Linked DNA regions of Homo sapiens. The protein of the gene in region 3 purifies or fractionates together with the protein of the main gene of each other region. This does not show direct contact. Each region holds a gene or a part of one and is shown on either strand. Other genes may lie near its edges.

Region 1 (5,262 bases), on a different chromosome or scaffold from region 3:
TCTGGCCTACCTATCTTTTGTTTCGTTTTGTTTTTTTCATAGCAGGAACATTTAAAATCTATTATTTTTTTGAATACTTTTTTGGGGAACAGGTGATGTTTGGTTACGTGGATAAGTTCATTAGTGGTGATTTCTGAGATTTTGGTGCCCCCATTACCCGAACAGTGTACACTGTACCCAATGTGTAGACTAAAATCTTATGCTTTTAGCAGTTTTGAAATGCACATACATTATTATCAACTATGGTGAGCATGCTGCAAAATAGGTCTTAAAAACTTATTCCTCTTGTCTAACTGGAACTTTGTACCCTTTGGTCAACTTCTCCCCATTTCCCACTCCCTCCAAGCCACAGTCCCTGGTAACCATTCTACTCTAATTCTGAGTTCAACTCTTTTAGATCTCACATATAAGTGAGATTATGTGGTGTTTGTCTTTCTGTGTCTGGCTTGCTTCACTTAGCATAATGTCCCCCAGGTTCATTCATGCTGTAGCAAATGACAGAATTTCCTTCTTTCTTATATTTTTATAACTTCTTTTTCTTTTCTGCAAGTTTCCTTTTTTTTCTTTATTTGTTTTAAGATAATGTTAATTGATTGTTGAGGCATTTTTATGATGGCTACTTTGAAATCCTTGTCAGATAATTCCAACATCGAACTCATCTTAATGTTGGCAGTAGTTGCCTTTTCTCAGTCAAGTTGTGATTTACTTGATTCTTGGTATGACAGATGATTTTTGATTGAACATTTTGTCTACTATGTTAGGAAACTCATATTTACATTTTTTATTTTTGCAGTCAGTCACATTATTTATGCTTCACATGCAAGCAGGTGTTGGCTTACTTTTGTGGTCTGTTGTTCTAACAGCAGTTTAATTTTCAGTATTGTTTTGCTCTGTTTGGTTTATCGGATATCACTGAGGCTGACATTTGTCCCAGATCATATCGCCTGAAGGAGCAGAAAGGTTTCCCTAGGTCAGGCTTCCAGGTGCCTCTCAGTTGGGGTAGGTATGGTGGGACACTTCTACTGGCGCCCTGCACTGTTGGTGTCTCTATGGGTAGGAGAGGACAGTCATACACCCACTGAGACAGAGCCTTCCCAGACTGGGCCGCTTGCCATCACTTTATGCCTCGTGTCTGTTCTACCCTCCCACCTCGATATCTCTAGGTGAAAGTGGGACATCTCAGGCCTGGGGAGAAGGCAAATGCTTCTTTTGTCCACTGTTGTTGGTGGGGTTTCTGAAGATCCCCCCTTACCTGTGGTGTTGGGCCTACCTGATGTTGTCAGAGGGACTCTGAGGGAGGAGTAAGCTTACCTGGGCTGCCCTCTGTTGTTCAGTTGGGTATCAGGAATGGCCAGGACTAGGTTTCTTTCTTCTGCTGGGTGGGAAACATAGGATACCCTTGCTCTTTGTTTTTCCCTGGGTCTCAAACCAGTTTGCCTTCTCCTTACAACCTTCCAGAGTTCTACCCTGGTTGTCTCTTGCATTATTTCCAGGGTTTATACTTGTGCTTAGCAGGGAGGAACAATGAAAAACAGGTCTGTACTACATGTCCAGACCAGAAATCTCCCTCAGTTTTTAAGAGTGTAAAATTGTCCTGAGACCACAAATTTTGAGAACTGTTGGCCTTACAGAAAGATGAAGTAATTAAGCTCCCCATAGGATTTGGAGGCCCACCGAAGGGCACCCTACCCAAATCCAGCCTGCCACTACACTAAAATTCTCAGTTCTATATGAGCACTTTCCAAAGGGCTATTTTAGGTGATGGCACTTTGGGGAGCACTATACAGTCACTGTCTTATCTTATTAACTGGTTGCTATGCATTGCATTGTCGAAGACTATAAAAGTTCTCCAGGATGGGTCACGGGATTGGCAGGCAAGCACTGGAAGAGAAAGTCAAGTTCAAGAGACGCTCTCTATGCTGTCCTAGTTGCCTGCAGGGTAACAGAGGGTGTTGGAGGGTTGAGGGTGAAGGGATGAGGATACAGAAATTATGAAAGATTCAGAGGAAATTGCATAGAGGGACTAATTCCTGTCCATCTTCCCAATTTTGCATACCCAAAGACTTATTTATTTCATATTTTTCTTACTTAATGACAGCAGTCAGACAAAAAGAACTTAAAGGATTGACAAACACTTTTAAAAAGTAAAAGAAAAAAAATCGTTGTACTGATTACTCTTGGTTTCATGGATTCAATATCTGTGTTCTCTGTCACAGCCAGGTCACCTGGTCCAGCTGCTTTCCTGCCAGAAGCTGGCTGTTTACATGGCAACCAATGCACTGATAAATTAAGAAAAGTGCCTGAATGCAAACAAAAATGCAGCACTTTTTAACTCCATACAGTTTCCCTCTTCCCAATATTCTCCTCCCCATGCTTTCCTGGTTTCCATAATGCCTCCTCCAAAAAGGAAATTGGCTTTCAGAAAGCAGCTAATCTTTCCAACAAAAACTTCACTGGAGAAAGATGGTTCCCTCCCACCCTCAAAGAGCCCATTTCATTTCTCCTGGAAGTTAGCCACATCTCTGGCCGTGCTTAAATGATGACTTCCAAATGTCTTTAAAGTGTCCAAAATAAAAAGGATAAAACTGGGGTTTTGGTAGCCCTTAAAGTTCCCAGACTTATTCCCTAAAAACAGAGATTTTAGAGATATTATTTGGCCATAATTTTTGTTCTCTAGTTTGGGACCCAGTATCTGTTACGAGATTGGTTAAGGGTGAGAATTTATGAACAGATAAGGCAAAACAATAAACAAAACCCCACAAACCCCCTTTGAAGACCACTCTTGGAAAAAGTGTTTGATGGCAGAGTACACACAGTACTCACACAAGTCAAGCCATGGAAGAGGCTGTGGAGCCTAGCAACAAATATCAATTGAGCACCCATTTTGTGCCACAAACAGTGCTGAACACTGGGGAAACAAGAATGAACATGACAGACACAATCTCTGCCATCCCTCAGTGCAGCAGGAAGCCATTTATAGCACAGATGAGAATAGAGGTGAATGAAAATCAAGGATTTGGAAAATATAAATCTGATTCAAACATTTCTAACATTTTAAATATAGAAGATATATAAATGTGTAACTAATTAGAAATCTGCAAAAGTTTAATAATATCACCTTGGAATTAGGATGGTAATTTCAAATTTTAAAGTGAGACAATATTTTTTGAGGTACTACACATTGTCATGTAAATAAGTAACAGTTGGCAAAGCAAAACCTCCAGGCCATTTTATTGCCCAGATTCCCAATTCTTAGCACCATAACCAATTAAATTCTGAAGAAAAGATGTTTTTCAGACATTGTCCAACCATGATATAGTGATGATATGCTTCAGAGCTAAAAGTTATATATTTCCAGATGAGCCTTTTTAAAATGTCACATCATTCAATTAGTGCACATTACTTAAAACCTCTGAGCTCACCCTTACAGTGCTGTCCAACAGAACTTCCTGTGATGATGGAAATGTTCTATCTCTGCGCCATCCAGTTCAGTAGCCCAAATAGAATTATCAAACACTTGAAATGTGGCTAGTGAAACTGAGGAACTGACTTTATAATTTTCATTAATCTGAAGTGATTTAAATTTCAATAGCCACATGTAGACAATGGGCAGTGCAAACTTAGTCCTAAAGTGGAGGTGATTCTCTGAGTGTCAGGGAAAAAAGTTCCCTTCCTTTGGATTAAGTCATTCTAAGTTGAGAAATTATTTAAAAATTGAATAAGTCAGAAAAATCTCTACATCAATAGGACTGTGAATAAATAGCAAAGTAAAGATTAGTATCTGATTTAAACAAAACCCAAGAACGCAATGTCCCTCTCTGACTTGACCAAATTTAAAAACAAAACAAAAATGCATATGTGGTTGAAATATGTGTAATCTCTTTTAAAAACCAGTGCTTACCTGCACGTTGTGCACATGTATCCTAAAACTTAAAGTATAATAATAATTAAAAAAGTGCTTATTATTAAAGAAAAATAATCCAAGATGTACACACTTAATCAACATTTAAAAATATTTTTAGGCTGGGCGCAGTGGCTCACGCCTGTAATCCCAACACTTTGGGAGGCTGAGGTGGGCGGGTCGCCTGAGGTTGGGAGTTCAAGACCAGCCTGACCAACATGGAGAAACCCTGTCTCTACCAAAAATACAAAATTAGCCGGGCGTGGTGGTGCATGCCTGTAATCCCAGCTACTCAGGAGGCTGAGGCAGTAGAATCACTTGAACCCGGAAGGCGGAAGTTGCGGTGGGCCGAGATCGTGCCATTGCACTCCAGCCTGGGCAACAAGACTTAACTTCGTCTCAAAAGAATATATATATGTGTATATATATATATATATATATATATATATATATATATATATGTGTGTGTATATATATATATATATGTGTATATATATATATGTGTATATATATATGTGTATATATATATATGTGTGTATATATATATATGTGTATATATATATGTGTATATATATATGTATATATATATGTGTATATATATGTATATATATATGTATATATATATATATATAGAGAGAGAGAGAGAGAGAGAGAGAGAATGTCTTGTATTTTGGTGGTGATTGTTCATTCATTTAATGCCTACAAGGTGGCAAACATTTTGCTTATAGAAGGATTATTATCCTCCTAATGTACCACAGCAAAATATCCCCCAAATATTCATATTTAATCTGATAGATTTGAAGTGATTTAATTTCCAGCAACTTCATATATAATAGATTCATTTTGACTTAGGAAATAATATAATCAAATGATCACTCACTTTTTTGGATTTGAGTGCAAACTCAAAGTTCAAATATATTACTCCTTTAAAATGCATAGCATATACCTCCAGAAAATGAAACCCACATTAACATATCTTTCTAAGAGGTGACTAATACATATTTCAAATACCTAAAATGATATGCATAAATTTTTTGCAGAAGTTTGATTAAAACTCGTTTTCCTGAATTAGAATTTAACCTAAGAATTCCTAAGAAGTCATTGAAAATATTTTGATTTAAGCAAAATCTGACCTGTTTAGTTATATCAAAATCAATTTTAAATATGTATGTGAAAATGATGTCTGGATGTTTGGAATTTGGGAAAGTAATTCATTCTTTCAACAAACATTTACTATGCATCCACTATGTGTTAGGCACCACGCTTAACACCAAAAAGTGACATTCTCTCCAAAACAAGTCCAGGAAGAACATCAAATTGCACATTGATGGAAACACTATCAGTTGTCCAGATCAACTGAT
Region 2 (5,088 bases), on a different chromosome or scaffold from region 3:
CCATCACTCTTGATTTTGTAATGGTGTACTCCTCCATGTGACTAGAGCAATCACTCCTTCTCAGGCCACACCCAGGGCTTCAGGTCCCACCTGCAGCCTCCTGGCCCCAGGGTACAGTCTGGCACAGAAGCCACAGGGATTCTGGGAGACGCAATTTCATTCTCATATCCTGATGAGTGGCCTTTGGTGTAAACACAGTTTTTCAACTTTTACTTTTTTTCCCCAAGAGCACAACTGGTAATTTTTTTTTTTTTTTTGAGACAGGGTCTCATTCTGTTGCCTAGGCTGGAGTGCAGTGGCATGATCTCTTCTCAGTGCAACCTCTGCCTCCCAGGTTCAAGTCATTTTCCTGCCTCAGCCTCCTGAGTAGCTGGGATTACAGGCACGTGCCACCATGCCTGGCTAATTTTTGCCCTTTTAGCAGAAATGGGGCTTCACCATGTTGGCCAGCTTGGTCTCGAACTCCTGACCTCAGGTGATGCACCTGCCTTGGCCTCCCGAAGTGCTGGGATTACAGGCGTGAGCCACCACGCCCGGCTGCAACTGGTAATTTAATGAGTAATAGTCTCCAATGAAGTTCTTCAGATAATATATTCTGTCATTTGATCACTGCACCTCATTAAGCTTCTTAAAAAGTTTCCCAAATTTGACATGTACTCCTACCTTTGTCCTGCTACAGTGAAAGTGTATATGGGTGGCTTAGCTGGGATAGATTTTAGAATTGGAGGAGGCCCAATGTGTCTGTCAGGTAATATTGCAACACACTGACCAAAGTAGATTTAGATGACTTGTTATTTGCTTTATGTTTTATATTCATAGTAAAAGACATAGAAAAGTGCCAGTGCATTTATTCCAGGTATTTCCATTTTAGAAAAAGAGGAAGTTTATTTAATCATGAACTAAAAAGGACAAGCCAGCTGTACTATTTTTACCTGAAATGAATAGGCTATGTAGTCACAGTGCTACAGCAAACGACTTTAGCTCAGGTCTGCAAGCAGTAGATGACAGCACATCACTTTCTTTTAATTCTTTATGTAGTCATGCAATTCCCACTGGAATATGTACGCAGATAGAGCCATAATCTCAGATTTAATGCCATGGAGGGCATTATCAGGTATTTAATTTATAAGTAATAAGAAATTCTGCAAATAAAGATATTTTTGGCATTCTTTAATTGCAGGGTAACTGAAATGGCTAAAAAAAAAAAACCCATAAAAGGTATTTAGTATTTCATCTTATTATTACTTCTACAAAATTTCTGTTTTTGTATGATAATGTTTATTTGAAATTATGTATCACAGATAAGACCAGAGGTAGAAAACAGCACGCCAAATAACAATCCTCAAACAAAACAGAACAAAACAAACAAACAAACAAGGAAACAAGACCACACATACTTACAAACTCTCCTGAACCAAGTATGTTCAAGAATTAATAAGTTGCACCCCTTACCCCCATCCACTCATGAGGCTCTGGAAAAAGTCGTGCCTTTTAGCTTTTTACAGTCTAAGTATGCTCTCGGCATCTAATGAGCTTTTTAAAAGCCAGCTTAAAGTCTTCATTAAAACTCGTATAGAGCAGAGGGTTGATCAGAGAATTCACATAACCGAGCCACGTCAGAAAGTCGGCCACTTCCGAGGACACGGTGTAGATGCTCAGACCCACAATCAACTCTTTGATGAAAAATGGCAGCCAGGATAAAATGAATGCACCCAGAATCAGCCCCAGGATGCGTGCTGCCTTCCGTTCCCTGGTGCTAGAGATCTGCTGACGTTCTCCTGGGTGATCTAGATCATTGTCGAAGGGGGGGATCCTGATGGAGGCATGGAACTTTTCAAACTCTGTGGTAGGGTCTGAGGTGGAGAAGTCAGACACACAGAAAGTCTGTGTAAGTTTACAACTTGCAAAAGAATTCTGGCTATCTGTGCTTCTGTTGCTTAAGTGCCGACTTGATCCCCTTTTCTGGTAAAGGCTCTTGGCCGCGTGGTAAATCCGGTAATAGAGAATCAGTATCAAAGTCAAGGGGATATAAAACGCACCCAGCGTGGAGTAAATGGTGTAGATAACATGGTCGTGCTGGATGGTGCACTGACTAGGGGGAGGGCTTAGGCGGCGGTGGCTTCTCCAGAACAGAGGGGGCATGGAGATGAAAATGGAGATGGTCCAGACGGTAAGGATCATCAGCGCGGCCCTCTTGGCCGTCCTCTTCCTGGCGTATTCAATAGCATTGGTGATGGCCCAGTACCTGTCCAGGGCAATGACACAGAGGTGGAGGATGGAGCAGGTGCAGCAGGTCATGTCCACACTCAGCCACACCTCACAGAGGAAGTACCCAAGCTTCCAGCGATCCATGACAATGTAGATGATGCTCAGGGGCATGACGAGCACTGCCACCAGGAGGTCCGTCACGGCCAGAGAACAGATTAGGTAGTTGGCAGGCTGGTGGAGCTTCTTGGTGGTGCCAATAGCCATGATCACAGCCAAGTTCAGCAACGTGGTGAGGGTGGTGATGACCACCAGAGTCATGCAAATGAGCATCTTCTCAGTGATGGTCTTGGGTCTTATAGCCATGCTGGCCTCTGTGGTACAGTTTGTGATGTTCATGTTTCCCTTGTTTCAGTCTACACTGTGGAGAAGCTGTTGGTTATTTTCCTTTGGCTGAAAACTATGTAGCCTCGAAGGTTTCTCACTTGTAAGGAGGCTATAATTTGTTCAGCTATGTGGTCTCTTGTGTTCCATTTTCTGTTGGTAAAGGGAAGGGCCACAGCATTTCTTCTGAGTGAAGGTTCCTGGAAAATATTATGCTATTGGTTAATGAATGAGAAAGCCACACTTTTCCTGGAAAACATGAAAATAGTTTGATATTTATAAATTCTTTATAAATTTTAATTTTCTCTTTCCTGTGGAACTTGAGCTCATCGTTACATTGTTCCTCAAAGGATACTTTTTTTACTTCAGGGAAGTTTTCAAACTGTTTTTTTTTAAATTATACTTTAAGTTCTGGGATACATGTGCAGAACTTGCAGGTTTGCTACATAGGTATACATGTGCCATGGTGGTTTGCTGCACCCAACAACCAATCATCTACATTAGGTACTTCTCCTAATGCCATCCCTCCCCTAGCCCTCCACCCCCCAACAGGCCCTGGTGTGTCATGTTCCCGGCCCTGTGCCCATGTGTTCTCATTGTTCAACTCCCACTCGTGAGTGAGAGCATGTGGTGTTTGGTTTTCTGTTCCTGTGTTAGTTTGTTGAGAATATGGTTTCCAACTCATCCATGTCCCTGCAAAGGACATGAACTCATCCTTTTTTATGGCTGCATAGTATTCCATGATGTATATGTGCCACATTTTCTTTATCCAGTCTATCACTGATGGGCATTTGGGTTGGTTCCAAGTCTTTGCTATTGTGAATAGTGCTGCAATAAACATACATGTCCATGTGTCTTTAGAGTAGAATAATTTAAAATCCTTTGGGTATATACCCAGTAATAGGATTGCTGAGTCAAATGTTATTTCTGGTTCTGGAACCTTGAGGAATCGCCATACTGTCTTCCACAATGGTTGATCTAATTTACACTCCCACCAACAGTGTAAAAGCATTCCTATTTCTTCACATCCTTTCCAGCATCTGTTGCTTCCTGCCTTATTATTATTATTATTATTATTATTATTATTATTATTATACTTTAAGTTCTAGGGTACAGGTGCACAACATGCAGGTTTGTTACATATGTATACATGTGCCGTGTTGGTTTGCTGCATCCTTTAACTCGTCATTTACATTAGGTATTTCTCCTAATGCTATCACTCCCCCGTCCCCCGACCCCACGACAGGCCCGGGTGTGTGGTGTTCCCTGCCCTGTGTCCAGGTGTTCTCATTGTTCAATTCCCACCTATGAGTGAGAACATGTGGTGTCTGGTTTTCTGTCCTTGCGATAGTTTGCTCAGAATGATGGCTTTTTAATGATCACCATTCTAACTGGCGTGAAATGGTATCTCATTGTGGTTTTGATTTGCATTTCTCTAATGACAGTGATGATGAGCTTTTTTTCATATGTTTGTTGGTTGCATAAATGTTTTCTTTTGAGAAGTGGCTGTTCATATCCTTCGCCCACTTTTTGATGGGGTTGTTTGTTTTTTTCCTATAAATTTGTTCAAATCGTTTTTGACAAAAACATCACAAAATTTTAAATGTACTTTGCCACCCCAATTAATTTCTTATTTATATTTATTCTTTTATACATGTTTATATATAAAAAGGCTTTTTTTTACATTTGAAAATATATATTCATATTATGTAACATTAAACATTCTGGGGCCGTTAAAGAAAAAATTATATTGCTTATAATAAGCAGCTTTCAAATCAGATTTTAAACTTTCACAGTAAATATGCTGGCGTGGTGGCTCACACCTGTAATCCCAGCACTTTGGAAAGTTAACTGCAATAATCAGAGCTAAAAATGGATACATCCTATGAGGAGTTGATGGAGGACCTTTTTGGGGATTTGTAACTTTAAATTTCCACTTTATTGTGACATAAAAAATATCATGAGTCCAAGGCCATATTTAAATTGTTTTTCATAAAAATTACAAATAGGAGAGAATTACTCTAAACCAAACTGGTTAGTGTACGCTGCTCCTCATTTCCAGGGATACTCTAGAGCCTCTGCTTTATACCATCCCAGTGAAGGTCAGAGCACCAGGGAGATGAGGTTATAGGGATGATAGATGTTAAGGCCGACTTTGGCATATTATTCTTCTGGGGCTTTGTCCTTTGCAGCAGATGAAGAGGGACAAGAATCTCTTTCTCATCCAGGAAGAGTTTCCAAAGCACCTAAGCATTATCAAGAAGGAGGAGTCAGCTGGCACCTGCTCATCTTAAAAATTATCTTAAAGAGGGTTTTATATTTTGGATCTGGTTCCTCCATTAGAAAACTGACATTTCACTTCATAAGTCCTGATTTACTTTAACCTAAAAAGTGTGCCTGAGTCAGCGGTTTTGGAGAGAAAGCTTGGAGTGGTGACTACCCACATGGACTCTGAATGCTGACCCTGCCACTTGTCAGCTGCAGTGTAATCCTAAGCAT
Region 3 (4,606 bases):
GATCAGTAGGATGAAAAATGAATGCGGATGAAGCTACTACCCTTCCAAAGCTATGATTCTCAAGATAACTATTAGTGGGTAACACTTATTCTGAAATTATAAATGAAAAATGGTGAGCCAGTGAAAAACTGGACCAGCAGCAAAACGTTTGCAAGAGCGCCACCTGCTGGATGTGTGAGGAAGAGGGCTGGGCTGGGCTTGAAAAGGAAGAAAATCATTAAGGTTTCTAGATTAAAATCACTGCAAAGGATGTGAGAGAGAGAGAGAGAGAGTGAGAGTGTGTGTGTGTGTGTGTGTTTGAGTGTTTGAGACGAGTCTCACTCTGTCGCCCAGGCTGGAGTGCAGTGGTGCGATCTCGGCTCACTGCAACCTCCGCTTCCCGGGTTCAAGCAATTCTCTGCCTCAGCCTCCCGAGTGGCTGGGATTACAGGCGCCCACCACCACGCCCAGCTAATTTTTTTTGCATTTTTTGTAGAGACGGGGGTTTCACCATCTTGACCAGGCTGGTCTTGAACTCCTGACCTTGTGATCCACCCGCCTCAGCCTCCCAACATGCTGGGATTACAGGTGTGAAACACCGCGCCCAGCTGATAAATGTGTTTAATGGCATTTTAAGTGAGACACTTGTTACTGCCACCAAGCGATAGGTAAACAATGTAGGCACAGAATAAGTCATTTTCTCTGACTCTCCTTTCCCCAGGTTCCTCCTCACAGCTAAGAGGACGGATATACTTTCACTGGGTGGCAAAATCAGGTTTCCTAGCATTAGCATACTTTTTGGGGGGTAGGGGAAATGCTCAATGGCTCTTTGAATAATTAGGATGGAATGTGTAGGTCACTGCAGGACTTAACACATGCAGACAATAAAAATAAATTATTTGTGCAAAGTTGATCCTGAATTCTCCCAGGATCCAACATTTGGAACATATTTCTGCTTTGCTAAAATGGAACAAAATTCACAAATCTGACCAAATGGGCTGTTTGCCAACTAATCCAGCCCCTACATAAAGCCAGAAAAGGGGAGAGGGGAGGGATCATGTGTATGTGCTAAAATCCAACTCTCTGTAGTCATTTCACAGAGAATGCAGGGCGGCTATGGCAGGGCATTAGAGGCCCTGGGGGATGAAAAAGGCTCATTCAGGCCTGCAGGTGGCCTGCACCTGGGGACAGAGTAAATCTGCAACGGAGTCGCCTCACTTCCTACAGTAGCAGCAATAAAATAGGCTGCCCTGAATGAGTGAACTGAAGAAAAGTTTCTCTGTAAGGAGTGACAGACGACTGGACTCACAGAAGTAGGGGAGGCATGAATGGGATAAAATTTTTGAATTTATGTTCAACATGTTTCCTGCAGATTTAGTGGAGGAAAAATCCACACATACCCCCATCCCAATCCCCCAGATTTTCTTCAACATGCCGCTTCTGTTCTTGGAAGAGTTAACTGCCTCGATTCTGCATAAGAGTCCCAAACACTGAGAACTAGGGTGTCTTCCCCTTCCTTTCCTTCCAAAAAGGCCAGCAGCCTCAAGCAAGCCAAAGTCCTTTCCTCTTGAATGCGTAGTCTTGTGAACTCCACTGTCTTCACAAACTCAGCAGCTGGTGGAAGCTCTCTGAAGAACTGAGACAGGAGGTGGCACTGCTCTGACACCATCCTTTGAAGGTGACAGAGCATCTCAGGGCTTGGGGGACGCCAGCCGGACTTTGAGAGGAGACAGAAGAGGTGCTTGCAGAGGTATTTCACAAAGATCAGGGTCTCGGCCCAAAAGTTGACTTCTGCTTTTTCAAACAGGTAGTCTTCTTCCACCTAAATCAGATGAAAAAGCCGAAAGTCAGTCTTACAGGGAATGGTGACAAGCCCCAGTCCAGACCAAGCAGTACCCTGCCAGATGCAAGAGGGGTTTCCCTTCCCCCACCTGACAGAGGGTGCACTCTTGCCTGTCAACATCCATGTACACACACCACTTGCAGCCTTGAAGGTCACCTTCTATTTTCACTCACTGTATTTCTCCACCAGAGAGGAATTTTTTCCCCAGACTTAACATGACCTTGGATAAAGATGTGTTTGTGGTTCAAAGTCAAGATACTTTGGGGGATGGATGCTGAAAAGGGGACTTCAACAAGGGAGTGGGCTCTAGAGTTTAAGGTGCAGCTGGAAATTGGAGAGGAGGGAGGAAAGGTCATCTCTGCAGCAGGCCAGAGAGGAAGGAATCTCCAAACACAGGACACTAGGCTGTGTCCTGTTTCTATAACACTGTGATTCTCAAGGTCCTTTTGTCAGACACTTACCATGTCTCCAAATTTCTCATAAAGAGGGACAATGCGTTTTGAACCCTTGGCCTGCTGGGGATGCCAAGAAGGCCAGCTGAGTCAGATGCTGGTGGCGATCAATTTCAGTTCTCAGGATGCTTTTGCTGCTTGTCTTTGTCCTCAGTTTCCCTATCTGTGACTGCACCCACCCTGGAGGGGGCTAATAATAGTTTTCTTCAAGCAGGAAGTTCCCAGCAAAGATCCTAATTCTCTGAAAATGCTTCACCCTCAGACCTAACTTTGGGAAGCCCCAGGCTAACTCCAATACTGACTAACAAGCAGTCTCCATAATAAAACTCTCCGCATCCAGGGGCTTCTTTTTTTCTTTTCTTTTCTTTTCTTTTTTTTTTGAGATGGAGTCTTGCTCTGTTGCCCAGGCTGGAGTGCAGTGGTGCAATCTCGGCTCACTGCAACCTCCGCCTCCCAGGTTCACGCCATTCTCCTGCCTCAGCCTCCCGAGTAGCTGGGACTACAGGCACCCACCACCATGCCCGGCTAATTTTTTGTATTTTTAGTAGAGACGGGGTTTCACCGTGTTAGCCAGGATGGTCTCGATCTCCTGACCTCATGATCCGCCTGCCTTGGCCTCCCAAAGTGCTGGGATTACAAGCATGAGCCGCTGTGCCCGGCCAGGGGCTTCTTTCCGAGTTCTCTCCCCTGGCTAAGCTGGAGGCTGACCATCAGCACCCCAGAAGTCAGCCTAAGAGTGTCCCCGTGTCCTCGGCAGCACCCAGTGGGTGACTTTCCTAGTGGTTCCTGCTCTGTGTCTAAGCATGCAAAAGCCCAGCTGAGGCTGTAGGTGCTGCATCTAGCGGGTTTAGGACACTCCAACCCTGCCTCCTACTCCCCTGACACCCCGGGATCACCTGATGCATGCTCTCCACACAGGCCACGAGGTCATCACTCTCTCCCAACAGCCATCCCAGCAGGATGGGCAGTCCAGGGGCCAACTGGTCCCACTGCTGGAGCAGATCACACAGGACGGCCAGGGCCAGGGCCAGAGCGATGGAGGCATCCACCTGGCAGAAGGCAAACTCTGCAAAGACAGGAGAAAGGTGAGCAATGAATATACTGCTCAGGGCCGACCCCAGGGCAGCCTGCAGGACCCTGGGAACAATAAAGGCCTCAGGTAAAATCGCTGCCACCAGCCTGGCAGGGAAGCTGGTAGGGTGGGCTCACTGGAGACGATTAATCACCTTCTGAATCCTGCTATTTATACTGTTAGAATGAGTCATAGGCCTGAACCCACTGTTTCCATGCCCCCTAACTCAGTGTGGACAGAAGCAGTTCCATCTGCAGGATTAGAGAGTTATCTCCCCTCTGCTCCTCCAGTGTCACCAGAAGGATCAGGAAGGCTTCCCTGTCCAGTGTCTCCTCTGCACATCTGCCTGGATTTGACTGGTTTGCCCTTTCCTTGGAAAGCAGATCTCTTGGGCACAAGACACATCCTAGAGCAGGGCATCGGCAAGCTTTTCCTTAAAGGGCCAGAGAGTCAATATTTTAGACTTTGCAAGCCTATACCTCCTCACCTCGGCTGAAAGCAGCCATGGACAATCTGTAAACAAATGGTTGTGGCTGTGTTCCAATAAAACTTTATTTATGGACACTGAAATTTGAATTTAATGTGTCACAAAATATTATTTTTTCCCAACCAATTAAAAATGTAAAAACCATTGATAGCTCATGGGCTGTAAAAAGCAGGTGGTAGGCTGCATTTGGCTCCTATTTTGCTGCCCTCTGTCTCGGAGTTTTTTGTTTTTGGACCCTTGTTTTCCTGGGTGCTTGGAGGAAGGGCACTGAAAGAATAGAAGGGTGCAGAAAGAGGAAGCAGGGGGCCTTGGGGAAACCATTGCTTATTTCAACATTTGGCCTTAGACAATCCTAAATATGGGTTTGGAGGGAGGCTCAGGGGTGTTGTCACTTCCCCTAACAACTCTGCCCCTCCCATCCCAAACCTGGAGGGTGTCTGAAACACGGGACTGAAAGCCCACTGCACAATGGACCTCTGTAGGCCCATCTTGCACCAACTGACATTGAAAGGCCTGTCTTTCAATGATGCATTTCTATTGAGCCCTGATCACTCCCAAATCCACATCTCTAACTTGAGCACACAGACTTACCCTGACCATCTGGCCCCCGAAAGACTTACTCGGCACACAGGCAGACGACCGAGAATCTGCAACAGCAGGCTTAGTTCCCGTGGGTGTTGAACCAGGCTTACTGGGATGGCCCCACTGAGGGCCTAGTGAGTGCCAGGCCCTGATCAAATGCTGTCTCCCCAGTCCTTCTAGCATCCTATGGG
Region 4 (5,262 bases), on a different chromosome or scaffold from region 3:
TTCCATTATGGCAATAAATTGACCCAAGGTCATTTAACAAATTAGCATAAAGACTAAAACTTAGCCTGCCTAACCCTGACTTGGTGTTATATTGTCTCAAAACAGATTTTGGTCAGGTAGATTAAAATGACACTATAAGAATATGGTGCTTCAGTGAATTTGTGTATAAAATATCATCCCCTGAAGTCAAGGACCAGAGGAGGAAAATATTATCACCATTGGTTTGTTTTGACATAAGCAATACTGGGAAGAAGGATGTACTTGATCGGCAGAGGACCTCTCAGTTGCCTAGTGCTGTTATCTATTCTTCAAGGTAGGGGAGAAAAATCTTCTTAAGGAACAAGTTCAAAAGACTAAACAAACCAGCTAATCCTTTGGGTCTGCTCTCTATCCATCAGAACGAGATTGAACTAGCTGCTCATGGTCACAGATGCTGGGGGAATGCAAATAGAGATTTACCCTTTTTATGTTTGTTCTTTTCACACCTGATAAAATTACAATAAATACAAAACATGTTTTACTGTAATGCTTTGGTAATAACGATGATGTGTCATGGATATATGATATAGTAAATATTGTGACTACTTGCAGTGAGCTTAACTATTTGTACTCACTTTTATTTGCTTTAAAATGCTCTACACTGAACAAAAACAGAAAAAATGAAAACTGATAGTTCAACAAAAACATTTTTAAAGTATATAAATAGTGCAGAACTCACATCTTGGATAAGCAACAGTTTTAAAAATTAAAATTCACTTATTTTTGTAGAGTTGTTACCATAAATTCACAGCTCTGGTCAGAAAACCTCTCTGCCTAGAATCAGTTTAAAAGACATCCAAGAGTCAGCCAGGCCTCACAGAGACAGTGTTCTCAAATAGTCAATACACAAGCAGAATCAATCACTGGTGGACAAAACAATTACTGAGCATGTGATCCCACCAATTAAATGCCTGCCCTACATGTTTTCATCTCTACATCCATTTCTCTTATGTTTTGTGTTATTATATTGTCTATTTCTGAAATCAGGAACAGATATTTAACGCTGTAAAGGAAGGATGTCGTTTAAGACTTTCAACGTCTATGCCTATAGATGCACGAGCCATTCCAGGGTAAAAGGACTTTTGACTGGCTGGCAAGGGCTCACTCTGGGTTTGGCTTTTGAATTGAACCTTAAAACTATTCTGAATTTTACCCATTTTAAGGAACATAGTCCAATATAATAATCCACGAGAAAAAGTAATTTCTAAAAAAATAATTATATATAATAATGAAAGAATGGAAAATTCAGCTGGGTGCGGTGGCTCACGCCTGTAATCCCAGCACTTTGGGAGGCCGAGGCAGGGGGATCATGAGGTCAGGAGATTGAGACCATCCTGGCTAACACAGTGAAACCCCGTCTCTACTAGAAAAAAAAAATACGAAAAATTAGCCGGGCGCGATGGCGGGCGCCTGTAGTTCCAGCTACTTGGGAGGCTGAGGCAGGAGAATGGCGTGAACCCGGGAGGCGGAGCTTGCAGTGCGCTGAGATCGCACCACTGCAGTCCAGCCGGGGCAACAGAGCGAGACTGCGTCTCAAAAAAAAAAAAAAAGGAAAATTCAGAAACAATTTCATACAGGGTAATGATGAAACAAAAATATCCAGCCAGGCGCAGTGGCTCACACCTGTAATCCCAGCACTTTGGGAGGCCGAGGCGAGCTGATCACTTGAGGTCAGGAGTTCAAGAGCAGCCTGGCCAAAATGGTGAAACTCCGTCTCTACTAAAAATACAAAAAAAATTAGCCAGGCGTGGTGGCAGGTGCCTGTAGAACCAGCTACCTGGGAGGCTGAGGCAGGAGAATTGCTTGAACTTGGGAGGCTGAGGTTGTAGTGAGCCAAAGTCACGCCACTGCACTCCAGCATGGGCGACAGAGTGAGACTCCGTCTCAAAAAACAAAAAAAACATTCTCTAAGCTACACTGAAAAACAGATTTGTGGACTAAGTCAATTTCTGGACATTTTTGAATAAACGAATATTAAAACAAAAAGGAGACCATGAAGCAATTTATACAGATTATGCCAACTATATACACACACACACACACACACACACACACACGCTATATATATATATATATAAACATATATAATGTACACACGTGTGTGTGTGTGTGTGTGAGAGATTTAAAGACAGGAAGAGAATCTGGAGTGATGGTAGTCATGGTTTTATTTTTCTCTAAAGATCTCAGATTTTTTTTTTCTTTTTTTTTAAACAGGCTTCTTGCTGTGTTGCTTAGGCTGGAGTCCTATGGTGTGATCACAGTTCTGCAGCCTCAAACTCCTGGGGTCAAGTGACACTCCTGTCTCAGCCTCCTGAATAGTTGGGACCACAGGCATGCACCACCACACCCGGCTAATGCTTTTATTTTTTGTAGAGACAGGGTCTCACCATGTTGACCAGGGTGGTCTTGAACTCCTGGGCTCAAGTGATCCTCCCACCTTGGCCTCCCAAAGTGCTGGGATTACAGGTGTATGCCCCCACACCTGGCCCACAGATTTTTTTTTAAGCAGTAGAAAAAAAGGAAATATAAAACATCAGCAGGTTATCAAGTTGTACTTCATTAAGAAAAGAACATCATGATCTTCACACTTCCCTTGATGAAAACCTCTCTGCCTTCTAAAATATTTGGTGATATTGACAGAGAAGGTGTTTCAGGCAGGAGAGCTTGGAGAGAAAACCATCTCTGATACTTTTCTCAATGTAAACAGGGAATGGCAATAAAATTGTGCCTTTGGTACTGAAAGCAAGGCCCTGTATAGCATGCTCACCAAAGATCATCGTTTAAATCATCACATTTATGGCTTCATCAAGCAATTTCTTCATAAAGAGGTATATACTGAAATCAGAGCTGTTTTTAGCTTCTCTAGTTGAGGATCTGCTTCAGCACGTGAACATCTATATATGACTATTTTTCACTTGCACTTCACATCGAATGATGACAGGGACTGGCCATGAGCAGCTAGGGCAGGCTGGGAACTTACCCCAATATCATCATCACTCTGTATCAACTGTGCATGTCCAAAGAGGCGCCTCTTCAGTATGGGCTCAACCAGAGTAAGATATACCATGTACAGAAGTAGAAGGCCCAAAATGGAGAGATAAATTATAATGGTAACCTAAAGGAAATTGAAAATTAAGTTACATCTTTGTTCAAGCCCATAAATCAGAACTTTGTATGATAATAGTAAAACTGACTGACATATCTGCTAAGCCTATAGGATTTCTATACAAACCAGATAGCAATATAAGAAATAAACTCAACTCTTCACCAAAGTATTATTTAAGAAAAAAAGAGGAAAGATCTTTGGGATTTTTTTGCAAGTCTTCAAGACTCCAACTTCACCTACTGCTAATCACCTGTCACCACTGCTAGCACAGCAGTTTGTTTCTTTTCCCAGCTGAACATAATGTCCTAAATTCAGCTACTCTTTAGCTCAATTTAGATATACAAAAGTATTTTCTAGGCCGGTGATTTTTTCTTGTGACCTTAATTCATGTACTGAGAAAAAGTACAGTGTGACACACCCACTAGAAGGACTACAATAAAATAAATAGACAATACCAAGTATTAGCAAGGATATGGAGAAACAGCCCTCATACGCTGTGGTGGGAATGTAAAGTGGTACAACCACTTTGGGAAACAATCTGGCAGTCTCTTAAAAAGTTAAACATAATTTTACCATTCTAAGGAATTAACCCAAGAGAATGGAAAACATATATATCCATACAAAGACATATGTGCAGATATTCACAACAGTATTATTCATAATAGTAAAAACCCAGACATAATCCAAACGTCCATCAACTGATAAATGCATATTCATATAGTGAAATACTATTCAGCAATAAAAAGAAACGAAGTACTGATACATGCTACAACTTGCATAAACATCAAAAACATTGTGCTAAATGAAAGAAGCCAGTCACAGAAGACTATATATTATATGATTCCATATACATGAAATGTCCATGTATGCAGAGACAGAAAGTAGACTAGTGACCGAGTAGGGCTGGAAATGGGAATTAACTGTAAATGGGCATGAGGGATCTTTTTGGGGTAGTGGGAATGTTCTGAAACTGGATTTTATTTTTTTTTTTTTGAGACAGAGTCTCACTGGAGTGCAGTGGCACGATCTCAGCTCACTGCAACCTCTGCCTCCAGGATCAAGTGATTCTCATGCCGTAGCCTCCCAAGTAGCTGGGACTACAGGTGCGTGCCACCACACCTGGCTAATTTTTATATTTTTAGTAGAGATGGGGTTTCACCACGTTGGACAGGCTGGTCTCGAACTCCTGACCTCAAGTGATCCACCCGCCTCGGACTTCCAAAGTGCTGGGATTATAGATGTGAGCCACCATGCCTGGCCTGAAACTGGATTTTAAAATGTTTTAAATCTACTAAAATTTATAGAATTGTATACTTATAGTGAGTGACTTTTAGGGTACATAAGTTGTATATTTTTTACAAATCTGTTAAATAATAGTACAGTGAGGATTTATCTAAAGTTCAGCACCCTGCTGGAGCAAGAGCTCTTCCACAGGGTCAATCACAGCAGAAATGTTTGTGACTATTATAACTAACCACCCCACATTCCCCACAGGGCCTTTTGGGGGGAAAGGAATGGGAAGTGCCATGTAAAAAAAAATTAGGCCAGGCGCGGTGGCTCACACCTGCAATCCCAGCACTTTGGGAGGCCAAGATGGGTGGACCACGAGGTCAGGAGTTCGAGACCAGCCTGACCAACATGGTGAAATCCTGTCTCTACTAAAAATACAAAAATTAGCTGGGCGTGGTGGTGCATGCCTGTAATCCCAGCTACTCAGGAGGCTGAGGCAGGAGAATCGCTTGGACCCAGGAGGCGGAGGTTGCAGTGAGCCAAGATTACACCACTGCACTCCAGCCTGGGCAATAGAGCAAGACTCCATCTCAAAAAAAAAAAAAAATTGGAAGAAAAACCATTAGCCACTATAATAAAGTAACTGAACTCATTAGAAATACAAATGGTGATGAGAGTGATCTACATCCCATTTACTACAGCAATACTCCACAACCTTTTTGGCACCAGGGACGGGACCAGTTTCATGGAAGACAATTTTTTCATGGACCAGGGGTGGTAGGGGATGGTTTGGGTATGATTCTAGCACATTACATTTATTGTGCACTTTATTTCTATTATTATTACATTATAATATATAATGAAATAATTATACAGTTCACCATAAC

What was found. Proteins that work in one complex are often made in the same cells at the same time.
Region 1: the proteins of THADA (region 3) and VSIG1 purify together in Homo sapiens (co-immunoprecipitation; one large-scale study listed by IntAct). This does not show direct contact.
Region 2: the proteins of THADA (region 3) and HTR1E purify together in Homo sapiens (co-immunoprecipitation; one large-scale study listed by IntAct). This does not show direct contact.
Region 4: the proteins of THADA (region 3) and TMEM9B purify together in Homo sapiens (co-immunoprecipitation; one large-scale study listed by IntAct). This does not show direct contact.

Annotation. Positions count from the first base shown.
Region 1 is NC_000023.11:108,047,062-108,052,323, reverse strand, and holds part of VSIG1 (V-set and immunoglobulin domain-containing protein 1 isoform 2 precursor), read right to left. Parts: intron 1-5,262.
Region 2 is NC_000006.12:87,012,851-87,017,938, reverse strand, and holds the end of HTR1E (5-hydroxytryptamine receptor 1E), read right to left. Parts: intron 2,790-5,088; 5' UTR 2,605-2,789; coding exon 1,507-2,604; 3' UTR 1,260-1,506; downstream 1-1,259. UniProt on the Homo sapiens protein: G-protein coupled receptor for 5-hydroxytryptamine (serotonin). Also functions as a receptor for various alkaloids and psychoactive substances.
Region 3 is NC_000002.12:43,229,543-43,234,148, forward strand, and holds the end of THADA (tRNA (32-2'-O)-methyltransferase regulator THADA), read right to left. Parts: intron 3,341-4,606; coding exon 3,171-3,340; intron 1,802-3,170; coding exon 1,406-1,801; 3' UTR 1,309-1,405; downstream 1-1,308. UniProt on the Homo sapiens protein: Together with methyltransferase FTSJ1, methylates the 2'-O-ribose of nucleotides at position 32 of the anticodon loop of substrate tRNAs.
Region 4 is NC_000011.10:8,950,184-8,955,445, forward strand, and holds part of TMEM9B (transmembrane protein 9B isoform a precursor), read right to left. Parts: intron 3,155-5,262; coding exon 3,020-3,154; intron 1-3,019. UniProt on the Homo sapiens protein: Enhances production of pro-inflammatory cytokines induced by TNF, IL1B, and TLR ligands. Has a role in TNF activation of both the NF-kappaB and MAPK pathways.